Homo sapiens: one gene and its partners. The protein of the gene in region 5 purifies or fractionates together with the protein of the main gene of each other region. This does not show direct contact. Each region holds a gene or a part of one and is shown on either strand. Other genes may lie near its edges.

Region 1 (3,500 bases), on a different chromosome or scaffold from region 5:
AAATTAATGCCAACAGTATTGGAGGCCTTAAGTCTCTATGGATTCCTAAGCCTTTAGTATAATAACTGAATAGCCTCAATTCATTTTTGCATTGTAAAAGTAGCATGAATTTTAAATTACAGTCATAATGATAACCAAAAATAAATAGGAAAAAAAATAAGAAACATTTAAGCTCATAAACGGAACATTTTCATGGATACTATGTGCTTATGGGGTGGGGAGAAAAATAGTTCCTATTACAAATAATAATAAAAACTACAAGAAAAAGCTTCTTAACGGAACCTAACAAGGGCTGACACTACACAGCTATATTTTCTGCTCATTGTCACTGCAAATTTTGTATCATGGATGATTTGAACAATTTAAAAAACATAAACTTAATTTGCCAAATAGCATGATCTTGTAAAATTTTTAAAAATTCCTCTGGCCATATTATTTTTAATTAACCAAGTTCATGACCCTTCTTTTGAGGCCCCATCCTCCCCAGACCAAGAGTGGTTGAGTAGTGGAGATAGTGCCTGAACCCCAATTTCTGACTTAAGTAAAACTCCATGCACTTACTACTCTATCACACTCTCTTTTCTTAATGCTTCTTTCTCCCAGCTCTGCACTATATTTTCTCTCTGATTTTCAGTGAACTATACTCTCCTGGTTTTCACAATCTGCTTTTTTTTTTTTTTCTATTTTCCTAAAGTGAACTTGAGCAGTAAAGAATAACAAGAAGTTTCAGAGTCAGACTAATCAGGTTTATGTGATACCTGCCTTTCACAGTTTTTGTGATATTTCAAAGAGATAGTCATACAAAAGCTTCATACTTAATACCCTGTCAATAAATGCAATGTTCCAAGCCATAGCACTTTTTAGAACTATTTTTTCTTGCATCATGTTGACTTCTTAGGCTTTCAAATTGTTCTCAGGTTTTCCCATGACCTATCTCAAAAACAAACTATTTCTAATTAATGTCTCTAATTAATGTTACCAATAATATGAAACTAACCTCCAGATTCCCATATTATAATAGATATTAAAAATGATTACTTCCTTGTCTGCTTTTACAAACATAAGTATATTTCCAGACTACTCTGCTTAATATGAGCATATTTGGTTTTCATTTCAGTAACAACAGACACTGTTCAATTTAGAGAGTAATTTGCACTTACGAATAAATTTGGTGACCAGAGAATTCACTGACCCATATATGTTATGAAAATTAAATTCTTATTAAAAGATTTACTCTACTAACAACATCAACTCTGTTTTTTTTCTTAACTCTTTATTGTGAAGAAGCTTAAATAATCCCAAAAGTAGACAATATTATAATGAAACTTAATGTACCCATTATCAGCCTCAACATAATCAACTAATGGCCAATCCTACCCCACCCACACCCCAACTACTTTCTTCTTGGGCATATTATTTAGAAGCAAATTTCAAATATCACATCACCTCCTTCATAAATATTTGAATGTGTATCTCCAAATAATAAGTAATTTTAAAAGACAACCACAATACGGTTATCCCACTAAAAATATAATTATTCATTAAGGTTATCTAACATCCAGAGTATATTAAATTTTCACTTGTTTCATCAGAATTTTTTAAGGTTGTTTGTTTGAATCATGATCCAACCATTCCATACATTGTGATGGGTTGCTAACTTTTTACATTTCTTTTCATCTGTTCTCCAGATTTTCTTGTTCTTGTTCCCAGGAACTTATTTGAAGTAACTGGGTTGTTTGTACTGTAGAGGTTCCCAGAGCCTACTGCCTACTATGGTGTAGATTTTGGCATATTCCTCATCCCTCTATTTCTTAAAAATTGGAGGCTGTGTATTTCCTTTTCCTTCCCTCCTTTCTTGCTTTCTCTTTTCTTTCTTTCTAGTCAGAAGAGTCAGTTCTAGCTATCATTTTAATGGTTGGTTGGGTTTTGCCTTGTATTTTGCCAATAGTGTGCCTTTTTTGTGACTTCCAGACTTTTATCCATGGGTCTGTGCATTGCCCTCAAGTGCTACATAATGAAAAAATCCAGTCTTCTACTTAAACAAACCATGCACAAATCTTTTCATTTAACTGTGCCTTTCACCATCGTGGTACTCCTCTTTTGAATAGGCTAGCTTTCTAATGTCAGTTTTAAAATGTACTTATAAGACTAAAAATAATATATGTGGTATGTTGCTTTATCAGGAAAATCAAGAACATCTCCTGGAAGTGACCAGGGCTTGAAACTAGTGCTACATCCCTTTGTACCCCCAGCTCATCCCCGCTTAAGCCAGGGCAGCTGCCCTTTGCTTTGATGAGGTAAATGCAGAAACATAGGTTGGATCGCCTCATAATTTCACCATCTGTCATGCTAGATGATATAACTTGTTTGCCTAGTTGTTAAGTAGTCTGGCTGTGAATTCTTGATTTTTTTTTTTTCTTGAGAGCAATAGTGAGTAATCTTGTGCTGCAGACTCTATGGGAGTAATGCAGTGTGTAGAATATAAATGACCATTTTTGCTCTAAATTTTGAATATCAAATCTTCTCATAGGTTTGATTGTTACAGAAGCAGTGAAACGTGATTCGGCTAATGGTAAGGAAAGAATTCCACACATAGTGCAATAATTCTTCTCCTGAAGCCTGAGGTTATGTAATAGTTTATAAGTTGAGAGTTGGATATAAGCTCTTCTAACATTTTAAATAAAAAGCTTTCTTGAACTAAGCGTTCTAGTAAATACTAAGTTAATTATATATGGGATTCCCAGCAACTTGGATACATTACATTGCAAGGAAGATAAAGGACTGTTTATAGCCCTAAACCTGTGTGCTGTTTGAGTGTAATCCAGTCTGGGCCTGATTCAACCTACCTAAATGTAACATGGTCCTAGTGTAGGCTCCAATAACAACCTAATTGACCAACCTAACAGTCTCACACAGTAAGAAGACATATCCAATATGACTCTGTGGTCAGGCATGGGTATGAATCCTAGCTATATCACATACAGTTGTGTGAATTCTAGCACATTCTTTAAACTCTCTCAACTTCAGCTTCCTATTCTCTAAACAGCAATAATATTAGCCTTTATTCTCATTTGGTGGCCCTGAAGATTAAATGAATATTTATCAAGCTTAATACAGTGCTTGACATCTTATGTCTTCAGAATAAATATGTTATCATTGCTGTTATAATTATCTTTATTAATTTATTTTGCCAGAATCAAAGGTGTTATTACCCTAAAATCCTTTGGAGTTCAACTTTGTCCTATTTCTAATTTATCTATTACTCTGTACCTGAAACACAATTCTGTATTTAGCATTATTTCCTTTCTTCCACTGGATGAAGTAAGCCAGCTTGGAACCTGCAGTGGAAATTGATGTGAGCAACTAGGTGAGGTTATAGGCACGACATGCACTGTAGTTGAATAAGCACTGGGATGAGCCATGGGAGGCATGAAATTTATCCTCAGATCTCTCCTAATTTCCCATGACCATGAGACAGTCATATAATCTGTATGAGCCTT
Region 2 (3,953 bases), about 27 Mb from region 5:
TAAGAGCAAACTCTCACTACTTTGTAAATCTATAAGGCTACTTCTTTTATGCGACATAAAAACTCACAATTTACTGCTCCTCTTAAAGAATGGTAGGACAGCTTTCTGAGCAGCTCTGACTTCCCTAAGACAACTCATTGGACTTGAAAATGTACGATAGTTTCATGTAAATACAGAAAATTGGGTGGGTAATGAAAAAGAATAGACATAAATGAAACTCACCAACTCAGGATGGGAAGTCGACTCGCTGGAATTACAAAGTGGAAATAAGGCCCCAGATGAATCACCACAAAGTATGTCTTGTCCTGAACTCAATTGCTCACTACATTTTAGGAAATTAAACTCCGTCTTTCCTGTATGTGCAACACATAGGTTGTAGGAATAAGGCAAAGTCCCCTGACTGTAGTTGGGGGGAACCACAGGTCCAGACTTGACACAGAGACCAGGTTGGAAGCAGCTCCAGGCGGCAGGGCTGGAGGAGCGTCGCAGGCGCAAGGCAACGGCCAGAATCACGGCCAGGAGGAAGAGCACTGAGATCAAGGCCAAGGCCACCACTAGGTAAAACTGCAGCTCAGCCTGGGGGTCAGAGGGTACAGGGCGGTCAGTGATATCCGGCAGCACCTCCTGCAAGCTGTCAGCAAAGACCAAGTGCAGCGTGGCGGTGGCGGAGAGTGGCGGCTGTCCACCATCACGCACAGCAACCAGCAGGCGCTGGCGGGCCGCGTCCCTGTCGCCCAAGGCACGCGCTGTGCGCACCTCTCCTGTGCGCAGCCCCAGGCTGAAGAGCCCGGGCTCGCTAGCCTGCAGCACGTGGTAGGACAGCCAGGCGTTGTGTCCTGAGTCTGCGTCCACGGCCACTACCTTGGTCACCAGGTAGCCGGGCTCTGCAGCGCGCGGCACCATATCGAAGAGCGCAGAGCCGTCGGGACCCAGCGCGGGGTACAGCACCCGCGGTGCGTTGTCGTTTCGGTCGCCCACCAACACGCGCAGGCTCACGTTTGCGCTGAGCGCAGGCGAGCCCTGGTCGCGGGCCTGTAGTGTGAGTTCGAAGGTGCGCAGCTGCTCGTAGTCAAAGGCGCGCTGCGCGAACACCACCCCACTTTGCGCGCTCATGGACACGTAAGAGGCCAGTGCCAGAGGCTCTAGGTCGCTGGCCATGATAGAGTAGGAGACTTGGCCGTTCAACCCCAAGTCCAGGTCCGAGGCGCAGACTTGCGCGATGGAGGCCCCAGGAGGGTTGTTTTCGGGTACACTGACTAAGTAGGACGCCTGGTGGAAAACCGGAGCGTTATCGTTGACGTCTCTGATATGTAGGATGACGCTTATGCTGGAGGAGAGGGGCGGCTTGCCCCTGTCTGTGGCTGTGATGGTGACATTGTACTCCGGGGTTTGCTCTCGGTCTAGGGTTCCATCTGTTACCAACTTATACGAATTTTTGGATGAAGAGATAATCTTAAAAGGGACTTCGCCTTGTAATTGACAATTAACCTCCCCATTTTCCCCAGAATCTTGGTCATGTATTTTGATCAAAGCAATTAGTGTTCCAGGCACCGCGTTTTCCAGAATCATTTCAAGTAGAGAATGGAATGTAACTTCTGGGCTATTGTCATTTTCATCTTGAATATTAATTTCAACTGTACATTGTGCAACCAGTCCACCACCATCCCTCCCTTCTACAACCATTGAATATTCCTTGGTCTCTTCAAAATCCAGTTTCTTTTGAGTGGTAATTTCTCCGCTCTTTGAATTCAGACTAAAGATTTGCCCGGTTCTGTAGAAGGAATAAGTAATTTCTGAGTTGATGCCCTCGTCTTGGTCAGTGGCTGACACTTGCAACACAGTGGTGCCTGGTGGCACGTTTTCCCGAAGGCTGACTCTGTACACGTCTCGGTTGAATACCGGGGGATTATCATTGGCGTCGGTTACCTGGATCCGGAGCTCAGTGGTGCCGCTTAGGGGTGGATGTCCACCGTCCAAGGCAGTCAGGACTAAACGATGGTAACTCTGTTGTTCCCGGTCTAAGGTTTTCTCCAGTGCCAGTTCCGGGTATTTACTACCATCCTGTTTCTCCTTAATTATTAATGAGAAACTTGGGTTAAGAGAGAGTTTATACTTCTGCAGAGAGTTTAAGCCAATATCTGCATCTTCTGCTACTTCTAGTATAAATCTTGTGCCAGGCTGTGCAGACTCACTTATTTGCAGCTCAAAGGAATTTTGCGTGAATTTTGGCGTGTGGTCATTAATGTCCTCGATCTCCACATTCACGTGATAAAAGTTCAGTGGATTTTCAGCAACAGCCTCAAATTCCAGAGCACAAGCTGGCTTCTTCCCGCATATCTCCTCCCTGTCTAGCCTGCTGCTCACAAGCAACTCCCCGCTCTCTGCGCTCACGGTGAAGTAAGGCTTCTCCGAACTGACGCGCAGTTTTCGAGTCGGTAACTCCTGGACGCTGAACCCCAGGTCCGTGGCGAGGTTCCCCACTACGGAGCCCTTGGGCATTTCCTCGGGAATCCTGTAGCGGATCTGCTCACAGAGCGCCGGGCAGAACAAAGACAGCAGGAAGAGAAAGAGCACTGGCAGCCTCTCAGCCCGGCCCAGCTCCCCGGCGCCGCTCCCCATCCCTCTTGCTCTCCTCAGCTTGCTCACCAGCCTGGAGACGCCAGGTTACAAATAACCTCTGTATTGTAGATTTTTGGATCTCCGAACGGGCTTTAGTTCCAGTTCCAGTTTAGGAAACGATTCTTTTTCCGAGGAGGAAGCGGTGTAAAGGCCGGCGCTGGGGAGTCTGAGCTGGGGCTGCCCTGGAAAGCGCGCTGCGGCTGCGCGAGGAGATCTGGAGCGCCAAGCTCTGCACTTTGGCCAACAGCGGCGCCCAGAGTCAGCACTAGGAAACTACAGCCTCTGCGGCTTCAAGTTAACCAGTGCAGTAATTGTTTTTGTGTGCCTAACTTAACAAGCCAAGTTTTTACGTCCATATACTTAATAAAAAATTATAACAACTTCTTTAAGGTATCTTTCTCTGTTTTCCAAATTGTTAGAAATATCACGTTGGGTTTTTATACAAACCTGCATACATTGGTCCATTCTTTCACCATTCTGCAAACATACCTTGAACTCTTAGCTAGAACTAAGTATTGCCCTTGTCACTGGCAATATAATAATTAATATGATACAGTTCTTGCTCTCAGAGCCTTCATACTATACTGATTTCAAAAATTCATTTTTTATTAGCTATGGAAACAATTTTATCATTCTTCTGTTCATTTCTATGATTTCCAACTCCCCAATATTTCTAGTGTTTTATATTACACATATTAGGGAAATCTATACTATTTAAAACTATTTTGTAAAGTTGTGGCAATTTTATACCAATCCCCAAACATCTCCTCTTCCTGACTATATTAACATTCTTTATAAAAATAATTTTTCTTTACTCTTCTACTTCAGGAAATATTCATTCAAGTATACTGCCCATATGATGTAGCTAAGAAATGATATACCCTACTACGTTGCTCTTCTTCATATCTCAAAATACTTCTCTTATGTCATATCTTTTACAGTACATAAATTCATTCTTAAGAGTTATTGGGGAAATGCTTATCTATTCTGCAATACAAGGTACAAAGGGATATTCTAGTGGATTGCATTATTATCCTATCTGAAATGACTTTGGAATTGGATAAATGAAGCTCATAAGTTCATTTACATAAATTTGTGGACATTGGTCAACCTTCTTTAGTCCATTTGTCAGATTAATAAAAACAACTAGCCAACATTTTTAGGGAGAGTAAGGATTTTCTTTCCTACCAGGGCAACTTTCATCCGAGTTTTTAAAATTGCAAAGTGCCAATAATATGTTGTCCTCTCAAATGTGCATCCAAATGGTACACAAACTATGAAGTTAACTCCCACTCCACTGAATATGCACCATACAGTAGAACACTACACAATCC
Region 3 (3,500 bases), on a different chromosome or scaffold from region 5:
ATTTGTCCTATGGAAACTTTAAATTTAACGTAGTAAAACCTTAAATCCTTTTCTTTACGGCTTTGGGTTTTGCTTGCTGAGGAAAGCCAAAATTATATCAATATTCTCCTCTATTTCTTTATAGCACTTTTTAATCTTTTTTACATTTAGATACTTTATATACCTGGCTTTAAGCTCTGTATATAGTGTGAAATAGGGCTCTAACTCCTACTTCCCAAACAATGCATAGAGACAGGTTTTGAAGCCTCTTCCCCTCCCTCCTTTATCCTATACTAAATTCCATGCAGAACCAATATCTATGTCTGCTTCTGGCCCTAGCAGAGCCCACACATTTGTCTGTCTCTGTCCAGTACTGTGCCACTTTGATTCCTGTGGTTTTTCCACTGTTCTGAGATCTGGGAAGGTGCTCTCCCTACTACTCTTCCCCATCCCCAAACTTGTCTTGGTTATTTTTGAACGTGTTCTAAGTATGCTTTAAGACTAGCTTGCTTAGTTCCACAAAAAAATTCACTGGGACTTTTAACTGTGATAGAAACTGAATTTATAGATTAATTTTAGAAAAAAATGTCTTTTACATCAACTTTTATAAATAAATGCTCTACAGAGATTTGAAAAAGAGTGAGTACACTGTCAGTTACAAAGTTTTGTGCCCCCACATGTATACACACACATACATACTCTAAATTTATTAACTGCACTATTCAATTCTTATCCTTTCTAGTTTTTGTCTATTTGATCTGTGAATTTCTGAGAGGGGTGTTTAAATCGTGCTCTAAAGTGATGGTATTTTTTACTTCTAACGGGTTTTGCTTAAAATATATAAATGTCATGCTGTTTTGTACATAAAGTTTTGGAACTGTTCAGTCGTCTTAGTGGAGAGTATGGAGTTGAACCTCTTATCAATATTAAACATCCTTCTTGCAAACTTTTGCACGTGGAATTCCACACTATTAATATTGTCACTTCTGGTTTTCGTTGCATCTTCTCAAGACAGCTTTGTCCATCTATTTATTTTTCAACCTTTCTGTACCATTTTGTTTTAAGTGTGCAACAGAAAGCACTGTCCCTGGTTTCTATTATCCATTTCTTCCTTTAGTACTAGAATGGCTTTCCCAACCCAGATTTCAGCAGAATCCACTCCCCCTGCTGGAGCCTCATCTCTGCCCTCAAATGTAGCCACGTGATAAAGTTCCTAATGTGCGAAAGAAAAGGGGACTCATTCAACTCCACCCCATTTCCTGAAAAGGGAACTGCTTGCCCTCCACCTTCCCAGGCCTGGGCATGTGCACAGACACACACACACACACTGCACACACACACACACACACACACACACACACACAGCCCACATGGACCAGAACAATGCCCAGGGGACAGCACAGTGACACACACACACACACACACACACACTGCCCACATGGACCAGAACAATGCCCAGGGGACAGCACAGTGACAAGACAAAAGTCATGGCTGGACTATCCTATGAGGCAGTACTGCCCACTACGCCACACGGCCTGCATGCCAGGACTGTTCTCAGAGAGAGAAGGAGGCTTCTCCCTCATCTCAGCCATTGTATTTGCAGGTTTTGTTTTTATTTGGTAGCTTAGCCTATACTCTGACTAATACACAATTTGTTAGCTGACACTGGAGTGTTCTTGTTTTTTTTTTTTGAGACGGTGTCTCGCTCTGTTGCCCAAGCTGGAGTGCACTGGCGTGATCTCGGCTCACTGCAAGCTCCGCCTCCCGGGTTCAGGCGATTCTCCTGTCTTGCCCTCCCAAGTAGCTGGGACTACAGGCACGTGCCACTACACACGCCTGATTTTTTTATTTTTATTTTTAGTAGAGACGGGGTTTCACCATGTTAGCCAGGATGGTCTCGATCTCCTGACCTCGTGATCCACCTGCCTCGGCCTCCCAAAGTGCTGGATTACAGGCATGAGCCACCACGCCCGGCTGGAGTGTTTTATGGTTGCAAAAAAAATCAAAATGAGGGAACAGCCAAACATTTGGGCAGTGGGAAAATGGCGGGCAGTAAGGAAATAGATAAGGATCCCGCAGGCTGGAAAGGTGGCAAACCTTATTGTGCCAGAGCAGAGCATTTGGTAAAAAATAACTACCATTAAATTGAGAGCATGAAAGAAAGCACCAGAAAATCAGCAAAATTCCGAAGATTTTACAAATACAACAGGATGAGACCCTCGACTGGGGTCACTTTCACATGAACTTGATTAGATGCGAACAGCCAGAAGCCTACACATTTCTGAAATCTCACTGCAAACATAGGCAGTGGCAGGAGGCAGGTAAGAAGCCGCCCTCCAAGTTTGCAATTGTTTAGCCCTAAAGCTGCTCACACAAGCAGGAAGTGAGTGGCACAAGCTGTGCAGCCACCAGGGAGGGCGTATTTTCTAATGTCCACTTCAGATATGGCCACAGAGCATTACCACCAAGGCAGAAGCTCCCAGGGGACGAGGCCAGAGCACACAGGAGTCTCTTTCTGAGGGCAGCAACAGGTTCAAACCAAGGAGCTTACTTCATGCCAAGAAGGCGTCTCACCGGTCCCACCCTGCAGGGTTCCACCACTGCTGCAGAGCAGAGCTGCGGGCCCTTCCCCTTCTTCCTTTTCCAAATGGGAGCTCTACTGCTCTCATCATATTCTTCCTCCACTGCTATATGCTGGTTTGGGTAGGAAACTTGGTGGATAGGGAGGAGATAACTTCTCTGTTAGTTTATAGCTTGTGGACTTCAAGAAATTGATGGAGGAGATGAACCAACACTCAGACTTGGGGGCAGTAGCTGCATTCAACTTCATTTCCATAAAAACAACTCTCTCTTTGTGCCCTTATTTCAAGGGTTTTTACACTCTTTAGTCGAATTATGTAACTATTGTAACAAGTGCAACTGGCCTACACAGGTTTGGAAATGACCCTCACTGACTCCTCCTAAGCATACACTTCAACTGGGGGAGGAGAGGAGGGCATCCAGAGAATAGGCACCTAGTGGGACGGAAGCAGCCACGAGTTTTCATTAGCGTGTTTTACAGAGAGATGAAGGGAGCTGGGAATCCAGACAAAGAGCTTCTATTATACATATAACTCCACATTGGAATTGTTTAAAAGTTGCTTTCCTTTTTGTTTTAATTAGCTTCTACTTCCCTATTCTAGAGTCCATTCTATTTGTTCATCTTGGTCCTTTTCTGTCATTGGTTTCATGCAAATGTCTGGTGACCATTAATTCTCCATTCTTATTTATGAATGAAGGATTAGGTTGACTAGTATAGGTCTGGGTTTTGGTTTCTTCCAAAGTAGTAAATTTCTGTTTCTCTAATAGGCCTCTCCCTTGCATGGGAAAGCTAAGTATGCTCTGTGGAAGCACACTGAGTTTTCCAGTGTGTTTTACTCTGGGAAGAGTCCTTTCCTTTAGTTCTCTCTCCTTTTCCATTGTAGAAGTCTGCTCTGTTTCCTATGCCTACACAAAGAATCATCTTCCCTTCGCTTCTGTAG
Region 4 (3,500 bases), on a different chromosome or scaffold from region 5:
AATAAATTTTTTTTAATTAACATCTACAAAATCCTTACAAAATAAACCCAAGTCAGAATTTCTACTTTCTCAAACCAGAATTACTACTATCTCATGGTGAAATGGAAGCTAACAGAGTTTGAACAATTTGTTTCTGGAAGAAACAGAGAGACAAGTTTAAAACTCTTGTCAGGCCCTAAAGCTGATAACTCTTATTCAGATCCATTTCTAACTACCACTATTTCCTCAGCATGACTACAAATCCAGTCATGATCCTCTCTTCAATAAAATCCTTTAATGTACCTACCCCTTCAGAATCAAGTCCAGACTCCTCAACAGGAACACAATCCTTCAGAACTTGGCCCCAAGTGGTATATGGTGAGCATGAGTCACATACATTCAGTCTGCTCTGGCTCTCATCTAAACAGTTCAGCCACCAACCACCCAAGCAGATGCCAGTCAGTCTCAGCGGCTAGTTAACATGCCGAGGCTACAGTGTTAATATTGTAGAATGCAAGGTGAACAGCAGCCCTAGGAACTGTGCAACATAACAAGACTACTGGCCCTGCTTTTCATTCTAGCCTCATCTGTCTCTGATTCTACTTTATTTCCACACACTCATTATCCCCTCTCTCTCTCTTTTTTTTGAGATGGAGTTTCACTCTGTCGCCCAGGCTGGAGTGCAGTGGCGTGATCTCAGCTCACACTGCAACCTCCACCTTCCAGGTTCAAGCGATTCTCCTGCCTCAGCCTCCTGAGTAGCTGGGACTACAGAAGCATGCCACCACACCTGACTAATTTTTGTATTTTTAGTAGAGACGGGGTTTCGCCATGTTGGCCAGGATAGTCTCGGTCTCCTGACCTCGTGATCCACCCGCCTTGGCCTCCCAAAGTGCTGGGATTACAGGCATGAGCCACTGCACCCAGCCTCATCATCCCCTCTCTTAACCTTAGGACCTCGGCTTTTTTCCCTCTGCATGGGACACGGGTTCCTTACTCTGCAGACCTCAACCTAAAAGGCACTTCCTGGAAGAAGCCTTCCCCACTACCACCAACACTACTGCCCCACTTCAGGTTAGAAGCTCCTGCTGTGTCCTCCCATAGTGCCCCAGAGTTCCCCCATCAGCATTCTCAGTGCTACTGAGTACAAGGACCATGTTATCTTGCTCACTAATTCCCAGGGCCTGGCACCTAGAAAGTGGTTAATGTATGTGGAATGAAGAACAGCCCAGAAGGAACACAGAGAAGCAGCTGTAACTGATCCACAACAAAAGGTTATTCTCCTAACTCAGGTCTCACATTCCACCACCTTTAAAGTGAGCTCGCTGGGCACAGTGGCTCATACCTGTAACCCCACCACTTTGGGAGGCCAGGGTGGAGGAATCACCTGAGGTCAGGAGATGGAGACCATCCTGGCCAACATGGTGAAACCTTGTCTCTAAAAATACAAAAATTAGCTGGGCGTGGTGGCGTGTGCCTATAATCCCAGCTACTCAGGAGGCTGAGGCAGGAGAATGGCTTGAACCCAGGAGGTGTATGTAGGTTGCAGTGAGCCGAGATTGCACCACTGCACTCCAGCCTGGAGACGAGCGAGACTCCATCTCAAAAAATAAAAAAAATAAAAAATAAAAAGTGAGTTCTGTGGGAAATGTTAACAGCTGTTGAATCTAAGCATCACAGATACAATGATCATTCTCTATTCTTCTAATTTTTTTTGTTTATTTTGGTGACAGTCTTGCTCTGTTGCCCAGGCTGGAGTGCAGTGGTGTGATCTCAGCTCACTGCAACCTCCGCCTCCTGGGTTCAAGCCATTCTCCTGACTCAGCAACCTGAGTAGCTGGGATTACAGGCTGCAGTGCAATGGCGTGGTCTCAGCTCACTGCAACCTCCACCTCCCAGGTTCAAGTGACTCTCCCACCTCAGCCTCCCAAGTAGCTGGGACTACAGGTTAACACTAATACTAATAAAAATACTAATTTTTGTATTTTTAGTGGAGACAGGGTTTCATAATGTTGGCCAGGCTGGTCTCAAACTGCTAACCTCAAGTAATCTGCCCACCTCGGCCTCCCAAAGTGCTGGGATTACAGGCGTGAGCCACCATGCCTGGCCTTCTAATGTTTTTTAAGTTTGAAAATTTTCATAATAAACCTTTGAGGAAAAAAATAATGTGACCTTTGCCTCTATTTCTAATCCTGATTTCCTCGCTAGGTACTTAGCTACAGGATACCCAGCAACAACCTGTCATAATTTCCCACCATCTGATGGCAGTGCCGTAGGACATAGAGAGAGTACAAACCCACTGTCAATATAAGAAAGCAATAGCCGGGCATGGTGACTCACGCCTGTAATCCCAGCACTTTGGGAGGCCGAGACAGGCGGATCACGAGGTCAGGGGTTCGAGACCATCCTGACCAACATGGTGAAACCCCGTCTCTACTAAAAATACAAAAGTTAGCTGGGTGTGGTGGCATGCGCCTGTAGTCCCAGCTACGCGGGAGGCTGAGGCAGAAGAATAGCTTGAACCTGGGAGGCAGAGGTTGCAGTGAGCCGAGATCGCGCCACTGCACTCCAGCCTGGGCGACAGAGTGAGACTCTGTCTCAAAAAAAAAAAATTAAAAAAAAAAAAGAAAGCACTAAAAAACTCTTAGGTCAGGTAACAAAAAGGCCTGCCAACAGCCAGATACTAGGTTCCAACAAAATGCTGGGCTTTCATCAGTTTCCTTCTCGTTATAGCCTTTTCTTTCTTTCTTTTTTTTTTTTTTGAGACAAGAGTCTCACTCTGCTGCCCAGGGGGGAGTGCAATGGTGTGATTCTCTTGCCTCAGCCTCCCGAGTAGGTGGGATTACAGGCACCCACCACCACACCCATCTAATTTTTATATATTTAGTAGAGACGGGGTTTCACCATGTTGGCAAAGCTGGTCTCGAACTCCTGACCTCAGGTGATCTGCCCACCTCGGCCTCCCAAAGTGCTGGGCTTACAGGTGTTAGCCACCACACCTGGCCAATTATAGCCTTTTCTATAGGCGAGGAGAACTGTTCTTCAGGTCTGAGAAGAAGAAGAAGAAAAAGAAGCTGAAAAGTGTGTGCAAGTTGCAGAAGAGAGCACAGCACTGATGGATTAAAAGTCAGGGGAGGCTGAGTTACGTAAATTCAGCTTGCTCTGGTGCTGGTCTAGCAGCCAAATCACCAATCAACCAAACATGCTCAATTTTAGTGGCTATCTAATAGGCACAAGAGAGAACATGATTATCACTAAAGAAAAAGCCCCTGTTCAAGACAGCTATTCCCAAAAGACTGTGCACTCCTAAATAGTCCCTTTAGAAAAAAACACTGACAAGGACATTAACTTTCAAAGTTCAACAGATGAAGAACCCCTCACTTTCTATCTCCTTTGTTCCCTCCTGTACAACATTCCTGAGGCAAAGAACTGTGATGTCAGTGTAGCTGACCTAGGCTCTGACACTTGCCATTACCTCTTGCTGCTTCTCCTCATTGGGGTAGGTGTCTACAAATACTCCC
Region 5 (3,500 bases):
GCAAACTCCGCCTCCCAGGTTCAAGCAATTCTCCTGCCTCAGCCTCCCAAGTAGCTGGGATTACAGGCATGCGCCACCACACCTGGCTAATTTTGTATTTTTCAGTAGAGACAGGGTTTCTCCATGTTGGTCAGGCTGGTTTCGAACTCCCGACCTCAGGTGATCCGCCCTCCTCAGCCTCCCAAAGTGCTGGGATTACAGGCATGAGCCACCGTGCCCGGCCCAGCCTTCCTACTCTTTAAAGAGAAACCAAGAAAGGGTACTGACTGCCCAGAGTAAGACCACCTGCCACACAGGCCAACATCAAGTCCTTGCATTGGGAATTATGCCACCTGCCCCAAGTGTCCTGCCCTCTGCTGAATGGTCTAGGTCCTTAGAAAAAGACTCCTTCCACACTGATCAATAGAGATTCCTGGATGTCCGTGCCTTGAAACACTCACTCAGCCTCCTGAGTAGCTGGGATTACAGGTGCCCGCCACCACGCCTGGCTCATTTTTGTATTATTATTAGTAGAGGCGGGGCTTTGCCATGTTAGCCAGGCTGGTCTCCAACTCCTAACCTCAGGTGATCCTTCCACCTTGGCCTCCCAAAGTGCTAGGATTACAGGTATGAGCCACTGTGCCTGGCCTAATCATTTCCCTTTAAAAAAAAAAATGTAAAACTCATATAAAATTCACCATTTGAAAGTGCACAATTCAGTGGTTTCCAGTACATTCACAATGTTATGCAACCATCATTACTAATTTCAGAACATTTTCATCACCTCCCAAAGCCCCTCATACCCATTAGTAGTCACTCTGCATTACCCCTCCCACAAACTGCTTTCTGTCTGTATGGGTTTACCTGTTTTGGACATTTGACATGAATGGAATCCCATGATACATGGCCTTTTGTGTCTGGCTTCTTTCACTCAGCATGATGTTTTTAAGGTTCTAAGTTTCATCCATTGTGGAGCATGCAGTGTGCTTTGTTTATCCATTTACCAGTTGATACATATTTGGGTTGTTTCCACTTTTTGGTTTTTTTTTGAGACTGAGCCTTGCTCTGTCACCCAGGCTGGAGTGCAGTGGCGCGATTTCGGCTCACTGCAACCTCCGCCTCCTGGGTTCAAGTGATTCCCTTGCCTCAGCCTCCCGAGTAGCTGGGACTACAGGTGCATGCCACCACACCCGGCTAATTTTTTGTATTTTTAGTAGAGACAGGGTTTCACCATGTTAGCCAGGATGGTCTCCATATCTTGACCTCGTGATCTGCCCGCCTCGGCCTCCCAAAGTGCTGGGATTACAGGCATGAGCCACTGCACCCGGCCTGTTTCCACTTTTTTACTATTATGAATAATGCTGCTATAAACATTCCTGCACAAAGTTTTGTTTGAAAGCCTGTTTTCCGTTTTCTTGTGTGTATGTGTAGGTGTGGAATTGCCGGGTCATGCAGCTAAATCCTTTACTTTTACTTTCACAATAGGTCCTGAGTATGTGTCTCCTCTCGCCACTTCCACTGCCTCTACTCAGTTCAGCACCTCCCGAGGGATGTCTAACTGGCCTCCATGCTTCCGCTCTGCACCCCACATTCCTTATCAGCACAGCAACCTGAGTGAGCCTTTCAATCAGGAGCTGGCCGGGCACGGTGGCTCACGCCTGTAATTCCAACACTTTGGGAGGCCAAGGCAGGCGGATCACCAGGTCAGGAGGTTGAGACCAGACTGTCCAACATGGTGAAACTCCGTCTCTACTAAAAATACAAAAATTAGCTGGGCGTGGTGGCGGGTGCCTGTAATCCCAGCTACCTGGGAGGCTGAGGCAGGAGAATCGCTTGAACCCGGGAGGCAGAGGTTGCAGTGAGCAGAGATCGTGCTACTGCACTCCAGCCTGGCAACAGAGTGAGACTCCGTCACAAAAAAAAAAAAAAAAAAATCAGGAGCTGCCCATGACATTCCTGAGAAGTTCAGAGCACCCCAGGGTCTCCCCACTTCTTTCATTGAAAAAGCCAAAGTCCTTCTAATGGCCTGGAAGGGCCCTCTCCACGACCTGTCTGACCACATCTCCCATGCTCTCCCTCGCTCCTGCCTCTGTGCTGTTCTTTGAATATGCCAGGGATGCACTCATCTCACCACCTTTATGTTGGTAGGCCCTCTGCCCAGCGGGCTTTTCCCTAAACGTATCCTCTGCCTCTCTTGCTCTCCCTCCTCTTTTCAGTCTTGCTCAGACTCTGCCTGCCCGGTAAGGCCAACCCCAACTGCCACCCCCCATCCCCACCTCTTGCAATCCCTAGTCCCCTTACCTTGCTCATGTCCCCCCAAAACAACAGTCACATTCTTCTAACATGCTGTGTCATTTCCACATTTATTGTATTTATGGTCTCTTTCACTCCAGCTTGCCTGGTGAAGGCAAGCTCCACCAGCATGGGGAGTTTAAAAACCTGTTTTCTTCATTGATGTCTCCCTAGGCCCTACAACAATGCCTGGCACAAAATAGGTGCTCCGTAAGTATCTATAGAATGAATGAATGAATGAGCACAGGACATATGTGGCAAGAGCTACCCTGACTAGTAGTAGTGTGACAGTGGATCTGTCTGTGCCTAAGAACACACTTCTGAAGGGGCTCAGGCATAACTACCTTCTGCCCTGGGACTACTGTGAGGTATTTAACGTTGACATTGCTGCCAAAAATATGGATATATAAGAACCCTCTAAGGAGAAGGAATCTGGGAGCTTTGATCTATCCACCTTCCTTGGGCACAGACTAGTCATTGAAAGACTTGGCATCTACACACATAACAATAGTCCATTTAAGAAACAGGTTTGAGGCCGGGCGAGGTGGCTCATGCCTGCAATCCCAGCATTTTGGGAGGCCGAGGCGGGTGGATCACCTGCGGTCAGGAGTTCAAGACCAGCCTGGCCAATATGGTGAAACCTCGTCTCGACTAAAAACACAAAAAATAGCCGGGCGTGGTGCACGCAGCTGTAATCCCAGCTACTCAGGAGGCTGGGGCAGGAGAATCACTTGAACCCGGGAGGTGGAGGCTGCAGTGAGCTGAGATTGTGCCATTGCACTTCAGCTTGGGCAACAGAGCAAGACTCCGTCTCAAAAAAAAAAAAAAAAGAATACAAGTTTGAAATTCCCTTAAAAAGTACGTTAATATCAAGCAGAGAGAAGCCTGGCTTTAATCTGGCAACAGCCATATATTTACAGAGCATCTACTATGTACCAGGTAGGTCCTGGGTGGAGAGCACTGGTTTCTCAACTTTGAATATTCATGGCCACCTGTTGCTAAAAATATATATACATATATATACACATATATATACATATAGACATATATATATATTTGCCATATCTAGGTATCACTTGTATTATTATTTATTTACTGATTAAAAAATAAATTTGCCTTTCCATTTAGGTAAATCCATTAAAAAAATAAATTCTAGCCAGGCGCGGTGGCTCACGCCTGTAATCCTAGCACTTTGGGAGGCCGAGGCGGGCAGATCACGAGGTCAGGAG
Region 6 (3,500 bases), on a different chromosome or scaffold from region 5:
TAAGGAAGTTATTTCATTTCTTTGCTAATGGTTTGTCCTCTTGGTGACTTGAGTAGCAACACAGCCTGGGAACGAAACCTTTTTTCTCTTATCATAGTTTTATCTCTTTTTCTTCCTTAACATGCTATCTGGACCCAATTTTTCTTTATTTCATTGAGCTGATTAAACCATATATTTTGGCCATGGGGAAAAGAATAGTTGAAAATATATAGTTGAAAATCTATACGTATAAAATATTGTGATAAGTTTTATTTGAACCATGATAAGTTTTATTTGAACCTAACCTATTAAAGGTATGTTTTGTCTTTTCTAGGATTTTCTTGACATTATCTAAATAGGGAAAGAATAAAGTAGCAAAAATGAGTGACTTTAAGTAATTTAAATAAATTAAGTATCATAAAAGGTGGTCACATATTTTCTAGAATTATTTTAAATTCTTTAATAAGATAGGCTGTAGTTAGCAGTAGTATCAAAGTTCCAGTTCTCTTGACATAGTTAGTATTTGCTGAGAAACTGCCTGGAAATGCAGTGGTTTTCATTCTGTGAGGTAGGGGAAGTTGTTCTGGGAGGGGATGCACTGTAGTAATTAGGTTTTATTTTCCCATATGAAGTTAATTAATTGTTGTTAAGTTTAATTTCTACTGCTGTGGTCTCTTTTGATTAGTGTCCTGCAGTTAATCTTTGTTTATATGGAAGTATCATGGGAACCCATTCACCTGCTCTTCAGAACGCAAACATTTCAACCATAGATTTATTTTTCTTTCCATATCTTTAGAAAGCTACTTAAAAAAATTAAATCTGATGAGTTTGTATCATTTGGAGTTCTGGAATATGGAGAAGACTCATTTAATCAGTCAGCAAAGGCTTTTACTAACTATATTGCTCTTTGGTGAGGTATATATACGTAGCATAGAACTCATGGCTTTTGCTTTTGAGTTTACAGACCACTTAGGGTTTAAGACATGCATTTGTGAAGCATTCACGTCCTCTTTTTCTCCTTTCCCGCTTTAGACTGAGTGGTCCATTATTGTAGTTAGTGTACTGCAAATGCCCATTTATTTTCTGGCCCCTGTAATCTTCTGTTTTACTCACCTGCCAAAACCCAACACTGGTTAAATTCAACTTGGCCAACTGTTTTTATACCTTATAGGTAAACACGGACGGAGGAAAATGGAGACAACTTTGCTGATTAGTCTCATTTATCTTTATTTTTATTTTCAATTTTTTTTCGAGACAAGGTCTTGCCCTGTCACCCAGGCTGGAGTGCAGTGGCATGATCCTAGCTCAATGTAGGCTTGACCTCCTGGGCTCAAGCAGTCCTCCCATCTCAGCCTCCTGAATAGCTGGGACCACAGGTATGCACCACTGCATCCCCTACTAAGTTTTTAAAATTTTTTGTAGGGACAGGGTCTTCTATGTTGCCCAGGCTGGTCTTGAACTCCTGGGCTCAAGCAATCCTCATCCCTTGGCCTCCCAAAGTGTTGAGATTACAGGCACGAGCCAATGCACCTGGCCCTGATTAGTCTCATTTTAAAGAAACAATCTCAGTCGCAAATGCACATTAAATACTGCTAACACTCCCACAATTCTTTACTATGTCTATTCTTGAAAATCAATATTTCAAACATTTTCCTCCTTTCTGAAGCCTCTAATTTAAACTCTCCTTTCCTCTCTCCCCTACCTCATTCTTTTAGACCTTGTCTTTACTGAGAAAATGAAAGCCATCACAAGGCAAGTTCTTCTTTCTACCTCAAAATTCACTAGCTTATCTACATTTGTACCTATTCTGCTACTTTTTCTCATATTGAAATACATTAAATGTCTCTATTCCCAGATAAATCTAATCTGTGTACTTACACCCTGGATTCCATTTCCTCTCACCTTCTGAAAATGTTGCTCCTACAGTTGTATCTTTGTGCTGCTATAACAAAATACCACAGACTGAGTAATTTATAAAAAAAATTTCAACCTGAATTTTGGAGAGAACATTCAGATAATAGTAGATGCTGAACTTCCTGTACTATCTTTCTTTGGCTAGATTCCACTGTCTTCTGTGTTTCTGCTACAAGACTTCTTTTAGACTCTACCCCACCTTGCTAGAGTCTTGGCTTAGCCTTCTGTTCTTTTTTAGAGAAGAAACTTAGGGCTTTCCTCATTCCTCATATTCTAAGTGCTCCAACCTGAATAACCATCTCTCTCTCTGGGATTGCTCTCTGGTCTGGGTCTGCCACCGCCTTTGCTTGAACTTTAGTATCTTTGACTATGAGTTCTTGCCTCCTTTAGTCTGGTTCTTCCAGTCTTGATTGTAACTCACGTCATACCTTTAACCCCCCACCTTTAAGTTTAAAAAAATCCTTATTTTCTGCTCTCCAAAATATAAGATATTCTAATACTAATTTCAGTGAAAGACATAGTTGGCTACTCTACCTTTTTCCCTGCCCTTGCTGCTTATTTTGCTGACTTATGATCACTGCTTGTCTAAGGAGAAACCTATTGTCTAATGCTGATTAGGAAATGGCATGATGTTTGGTTGTCTTACCTCTCTGAAAATAATGTTTACAGACCATGTGGCAAAGGAATAAAAATTACCTGTGGCTCAAAAGAGAGTGGATTGCAAAAACAGCCAATAATTCGCAAATAATTTGATTTTTCAGATGTGTCTTTATGAATCATTGATCATATGTTTGACTTGATAATTGTTATGTATTTTAGATTTTATTCTGATGAATTATAATACGTTTAAGTAAAAAGGCAAATAGTTAAATTCATTCAACAAATATTGCATACCCACTATGTGCGGGATACTGAATTAGGTGATACAAAGAAGAAAAGACAGCTCCTCCTCTCAAACTTGCTTTTGATAAGTTTTGTGGAGTTGGGACTTTGAGAAGCAGGCAAATTGTGAAAAGCAATATATAGAGAGAGTGATATTGCAAAGTGAAGTCATGTACTTCTGAGTGTGGAAATGCAAAATATAGGAAGATTGAAGGAGCTTTTTTTCCCTCTCTCAAAACAATACAGTGTGAGGGAAGGTTTCACAAAGGAGCCAGCATTTGAGGGCAGAATCTTTTTTTTTGTTTAACTTTATTTTATTTTAGATTCAAGATATACATGTGCAGGTTACATGGGTATATTGTGTAATGGTGGGGTGGTATGATTTAGATCTGTGCCCCACCCAAATCTCATGTTCAGCTGTAATCCCCAGTGTTGGATCTGGGGCCTGGTGGGAAGTGATTGGATCATGGGGGTGGTTTCTAATGGTTTAGCACCATCCCCCAGAGCTGTTATTGTGATAGAATTCTCACAAGATCTGGTTGTTTAAAAGTGTGCAGTATCTCCCCCCTCTCTGTCTTCCTCCGGCTCTGGCCATGTGAAGATGTGCCTACTTCTCCTTTACCTTTTGCCATGATTGTAAATTTCCTGAGGCCTCCCCAGCCATGCTTCATGTACAACCTACAGAACCGTCAGCCAATTAAACCTCTTTTCTTTATAAATTACCC
Region 7 (3,500 bases), on a different chromosome or scaffold from region 5:
TGGCCTTCGGGGTACCCATGACCTCCCTGACTCCACCTCCTACCATCCTCCGCTGTGCTCCCTCTGCTCCAGCCACTCTGTGCATTTCTCAAACGCCCTGGGGTGATTCCCACCTGGGGCCTTTGCACAGCTGTTCTTGCTGCCAGGAATGCCCCTCCCCCAGACACCTTCCTCACTTTCTTCAGAGCTTCACCCAGATCCCGCCTTTCTCAGTATCCCAAACTGCAATCCTCCATGCCCTACTTTCTTTTTCTACTCAGCATTTATGATCCTCTATCTTTTACTTATTTTGTTTGTCAGTTTTCTCCACTAGGATGTCACCTCCTTGCGGGCAGAGACTTTGTTTGCTACACCCCCAGAACCTGGAAATGTGTCTGGCATAGAGTAGGTTCTCAGCCAATATTTGTTGAATGAATGAATGAATGAATGAATACAAGTTTGGCTTCCACATCTCAGCTTAGGTATTCAGATGCTGCTGCCCTGGGTGATGAGGTTCAGGATCACCCCACGCAGGCCTCTCTGGAAACTCTGCTACTCCTCAGCACCCCACTTCCCAGAGAACTACCCTAAAATGGCAGCTAACACTTCCAAACAAAGCTTCCCTCCTGGCCCGGCCTTTTTTAGAGCTAGTGCACTTGGCACTGGCTCTCTGACTCATGGGCGAGGCCCCCACCCGCAGCTGCTCAGTTTACAGAATCCAGCAGTGGGCACAGAATGGTGGCAATGTCAGGAGAAAAACTTTCCATGACTATCTGGGCCATGAGTAATTGCAAAGCTCTCCACCTCGTTCCAATCCTGAAACAGTTTCTGGACACATTTGTCAAACACAAGGACTGATGAAGCCTTTCACTTAAGCGCTGACAACACAAGACATCATCCCAAATGACCAAGGTGACAGACCCGAGAGGATCGTGCTGGGGAGAGGAAGAGGATGGCATTTACGTCACCAGACCCCCTTCCAAGCACTCTGCTGCTGATGATCACCAGGACCTCAAGGCCAAAGACCAATGGAGATGCCCAAGGTGCAGGTCCTGCCTGCCTCCACTAATGCTGCAGAGCCAGCTACCCCCGCTAAGCTCCCCTGGCCTGGGCACCTCTCCCTCCTGCCCTCACCTGGCCTGCACAGTTCTCCAGAGTGTAGCTCAGGCAACAGCTGCCTGCACTTCATCCCAGCCCTGCCAACCTTGGGCAAGACACCCAGCCTTTGAGTGCCTCAATTTCCTCATCTGTAAAGTGGGTAAAATAACAGTACATACCTCACAGGGTTGTCGTGAATACTAAATGAGTAAATACCACCAAAGTGCCCAGAGCAGGCCTGCACAAGGTAGGTGCTCAATAGATTTTAACCAACACCACTAAGAAAGACATGGTCTCCCTACCCCCGACCCCCAGAAGCTCCACTTTCAGGAGCCCTTGAGAATCAGGAAAGCCTCCGCTCTGCCACCAACTCCTACTTCCCTGCCATCCACCCACACCACCCATCTTCAAGTTGGGAAGAGAGAAAAGAGAACATTTATACCACCTGGGGTCCCCGACAGCCCCCCAGTCCCCACAGGAGCAGTGTCTACCGTGTTCCTGATGCAGCAGGTGTAGGGCACCCCACAGGCCAGGGGTCCAGGGGCACTGCAGTCGTGGTACTGATTCTTGCTCCAATCTCGGTAGTCCTCCCCGCCACAGCACTTGAACTGAGGGAAGCAAGCAGGAAAGAGGAGCTGCCGTCATCGCCCAGGCCCTGCTCAGACGACAGGAAGGGGCCCTGTCAGGAGACGGAGGCAGTTTATTATGTGGGTCACCCTGGGGCAGGGAGAGGCTGTACACTTTCAAGTCAGAGCTGTCAAAGTGTGGCATGGCTGCCTAGAGGGTAGTGAACCCCCTGTCACTAGAGAGGTATGGAAGCCAAGGCTGGGCTGCCTCTTGGTGGGATATCAGGGTAGTGACTAGGCACTGGGAGGAAAGGTCCTTCCTTGACAACTGGCCTCCACTTTCTTCATCTTCGTGTCCCCAAATGCAGGTGCTAGGCTGGAAAAGATGGCCCTTAAAGTCCCAGAGACCAAGCATGATTCTGTGAAAGTCCCTGCACCTCAACCAACCTTCGCACCCACCCTAGGAGCCACCCCGTCCAGCTCAGCTGGCCCTGCCCTTAGCAAGGAGAGCACCCACACCTCACAACCTGCCTGGAGCTCTCCCCTTAGCCGAGCCCCTCCCTGCCTCCCCTCCCTGCTCCTGTAGGAAGTAGTTGGTAACCCTCCTGATGGCTGGTATGTGCCTGGCATTGTCCTGGGCACTGGAGAGACAGGGTGAGCAAAAGCAAGGCAGCCCTTGCTCAGGTGGAACACATTCCAGTGGAGAGACAGAGAGTGAGCACTGGATGGAAAGGTGCTGTGCAACCTGGAAATGGAGAAATAGGGGGAAAGTGGGGAGGGGCAGCTCTAGGTTGGCAGGTCATGAAAGGGCTCTTTGTAGAGAGGATATTTCATCTGAAACATGGAAACAGAAAGAAGCCAGACGACCCATGCAAAGGCCCCACGCAGAAACAAGCTTGTATTTCAGCAGCAGGTGCGGAGGCCAACAAGCCTGGAACAGAGAGAGTGCAGAGCATGAGGATGAAAGGGCGGCACAGGCTGGACCATGCAAAGCTTTGCCAGCCAGCTGAAGCAGGGAGCTGGGACTGGAGGGCTCAACCAGGGCTGCAGTACACGTCCTGGTAGCCAGACACCTTTCAGAGTCCCCACAGTGCCCCTTAAGCCACCAGGTTTTGGGACCTAGAACTGTCTTTCTGCAATGTAGTTCAAAGGGCATTTGTCTTGCAATGGAACAGACCCAAGGTCAAATCCTCAGACCACCACTCCCTGCTGTGCAACCTCAGGCAAGTTGGTCAGCCTCTCTGAGCCTCAGATGGTTGTCTGTAAAGCAAGAATAAGGATGGCAGCTCTGCACAGCTGAGCTGTGATTACATAGAGTGCCATGCATGAAGCACTCAGCACTGGACCTGGCACCAAGCAAGTGCCCATTCAGCATTAATCACCTCCTACCTCTATGCCAGGAGAAATGAAATCCCCAAGCCAGCTAAAGGCTGGTTCCAATAAAAACATCTCACTCCACCCGGAGCAGAAGTCAGCTCTCCCAGCCCAAGCTGGCAGGCACATCCCTGGCAGAAAAAGACCTTCCAGAGGCTGCACCTGTTGTGACTGAAGAGAAAGTCTGGGCCAAGGGAGCGGCCACAGCAAGTGGCCCTGCATGTGGGGAGAGGCTAGTCCCCACTGAGAGCTGGCACAAGGATCCAGGCCAGCTGAGGCCCCCAAGATTATGTCCCAGGAAGTGCTGTCCCGGCTGAGTGGGCCTGCAGCCCTCACTCTACTTGTCCTCACCCAGGAGAACATACCAATGATCCCCACAGCTGGCACTGTGGTCTCACCCTGTGCTTGGCACTGTTCTAAGCACGTCTCCTGAATTAAGTCAAGGTAATCCTCATGACGACGCCCCAAGAGCTCCTGTCATTA

What was found.
Region 1: the proteins of TENM2 (region 5) and TRDN purify together in Homo sapiens (co-immunoprecipitation; one large-scale study listed by IntAct). This does not show direct contact.
Region 2: the proteins of TENM2 (region 5) and PCDHGB5 purify together in Homo sapiens (co-immunoprecipitation; one large-scale study listed by IntAct). This does not show direct contact.
Region 3: the proteins of TENM2 (region 5) and PACC1 purify together in Homo sapiens (co-immunoprecipitation; one large-scale study listed by IntAct). This does not show direct contact.
Region 4: the proteins of TENM2 (region 5) and LMAN2L purify together in Homo sapiens (co-immunoprecipitation; one large-scale study listed by IntAct). This does not show direct contact.
Region 6: the proteins of TENM2 (region 5) and DNAJC3 purify together in Homo sapiens (co-immunoprecipitation; one large-scale study listed by IntAct). This does not show direct contact.
Region 7: the proteins of TENM2 (region 5) and TSPAN15 purify together in Homo sapiens (co-immunoprecipitation; one large-scale study listed by IntAct). This does not show direct contact.

The regions. Positions count from the first base shown.
Region 1 is NC_000006.12:123,630,451-123,633,950, forward strand, and holds part of TRDN (triadin), read right to left. Parts: intron 1-3,500. UniProt on the Homo sapiens protein: Contributes to the regulation of lumenal Ca2+ release via the sarcoplasmic reticulum calcium release channels RYR1 and RYR2, a key step in triggering skeletal and heart muscle contraction.
Region 2 is NC_000005.10:141,396,794-141,400,746, reverse strand, and holds the start of PCDHGB5 (protocadherin gamma-B5 isoform 1 precursor), read right to left. Parts: upstream 2,801-3,953; 5' UTR 2,620-2,800; coding exon 223-2,619; coding exon of another isoform or gene 163-222; intron 1-162. UniProt on the Homo sapiens protein: Potential calcium-dependent cell-adhesion protein. May be involved in the establishment and maintenance of specific neuronal connections in the brain.
Region 3 is NC_000001.11:212,380,387-212,383,886, forward strand, and holds part of PACC1 (proton-activated chloride channel), read right to left. Parts: intron 1-3,500. UniProt on the Homo sapiens protein: Chloride channel gated by pH that facilitates the entry of chloride ions into cells upon exposure to extracellular acidic pH. Involved in acidosis-induced cell death by mediating chloride influx and subsequent cell swelling.
Region 4 is NC_000002.12:96,730,065-96,733,564, forward strand, and holds part of LMAN2L (VIP36-like protein isoform 2 precursor), read right to left. Parts: coding exon 3,455-3,500; intron 1-3,454. UniProt on the Homo sapiens protein: May be involved in the regulation of export from the endoplasmic reticulum of a subset of glycoproteins. May function as a regulator of ERGIC-53.
Region 5 is NC_000005.10:168,256,029-168,259,528, reverse strand, and holds part of TENM2 (teneurin-2), read right to left. Parts: intron 1-3,500. UniProt on the Homo sapiens protein: Involved in neural development, regulating the establishment of proper connectivity within the nervous system. Acts as a ligand of the ADGRL1 and ADGRL3 receptors that are expressed at the surface of adjacent cells.
Region 6 is NC_000013.11:95,680,139-95,683,638, forward strand, and holds part of DNAJC3 (dnaJ homolog subfamily C member 3 precursor), read left to right. Parts: intron 1-3,500. UniProt on the Homo sapiens protein: Involved in the unfolded protein response (UPR) during endoplasmic reticulum (ER) stress.
Region 7 is NC_000010.11:69,496,465-69,499,964, reverse strand, and holds part of TSPAN15 (tetraspanin-15), read right to left. Parts: intron 1,757-3,500; coding exon of another isoform or gene 1,686-1,756; coding exon 1,569-1,685; intron 1-1,568. UniProt on the Homo sapiens protein: Part of TspanC8 subgroup, composed of 6 members that interact with the transmembrane metalloprotease ADAM10.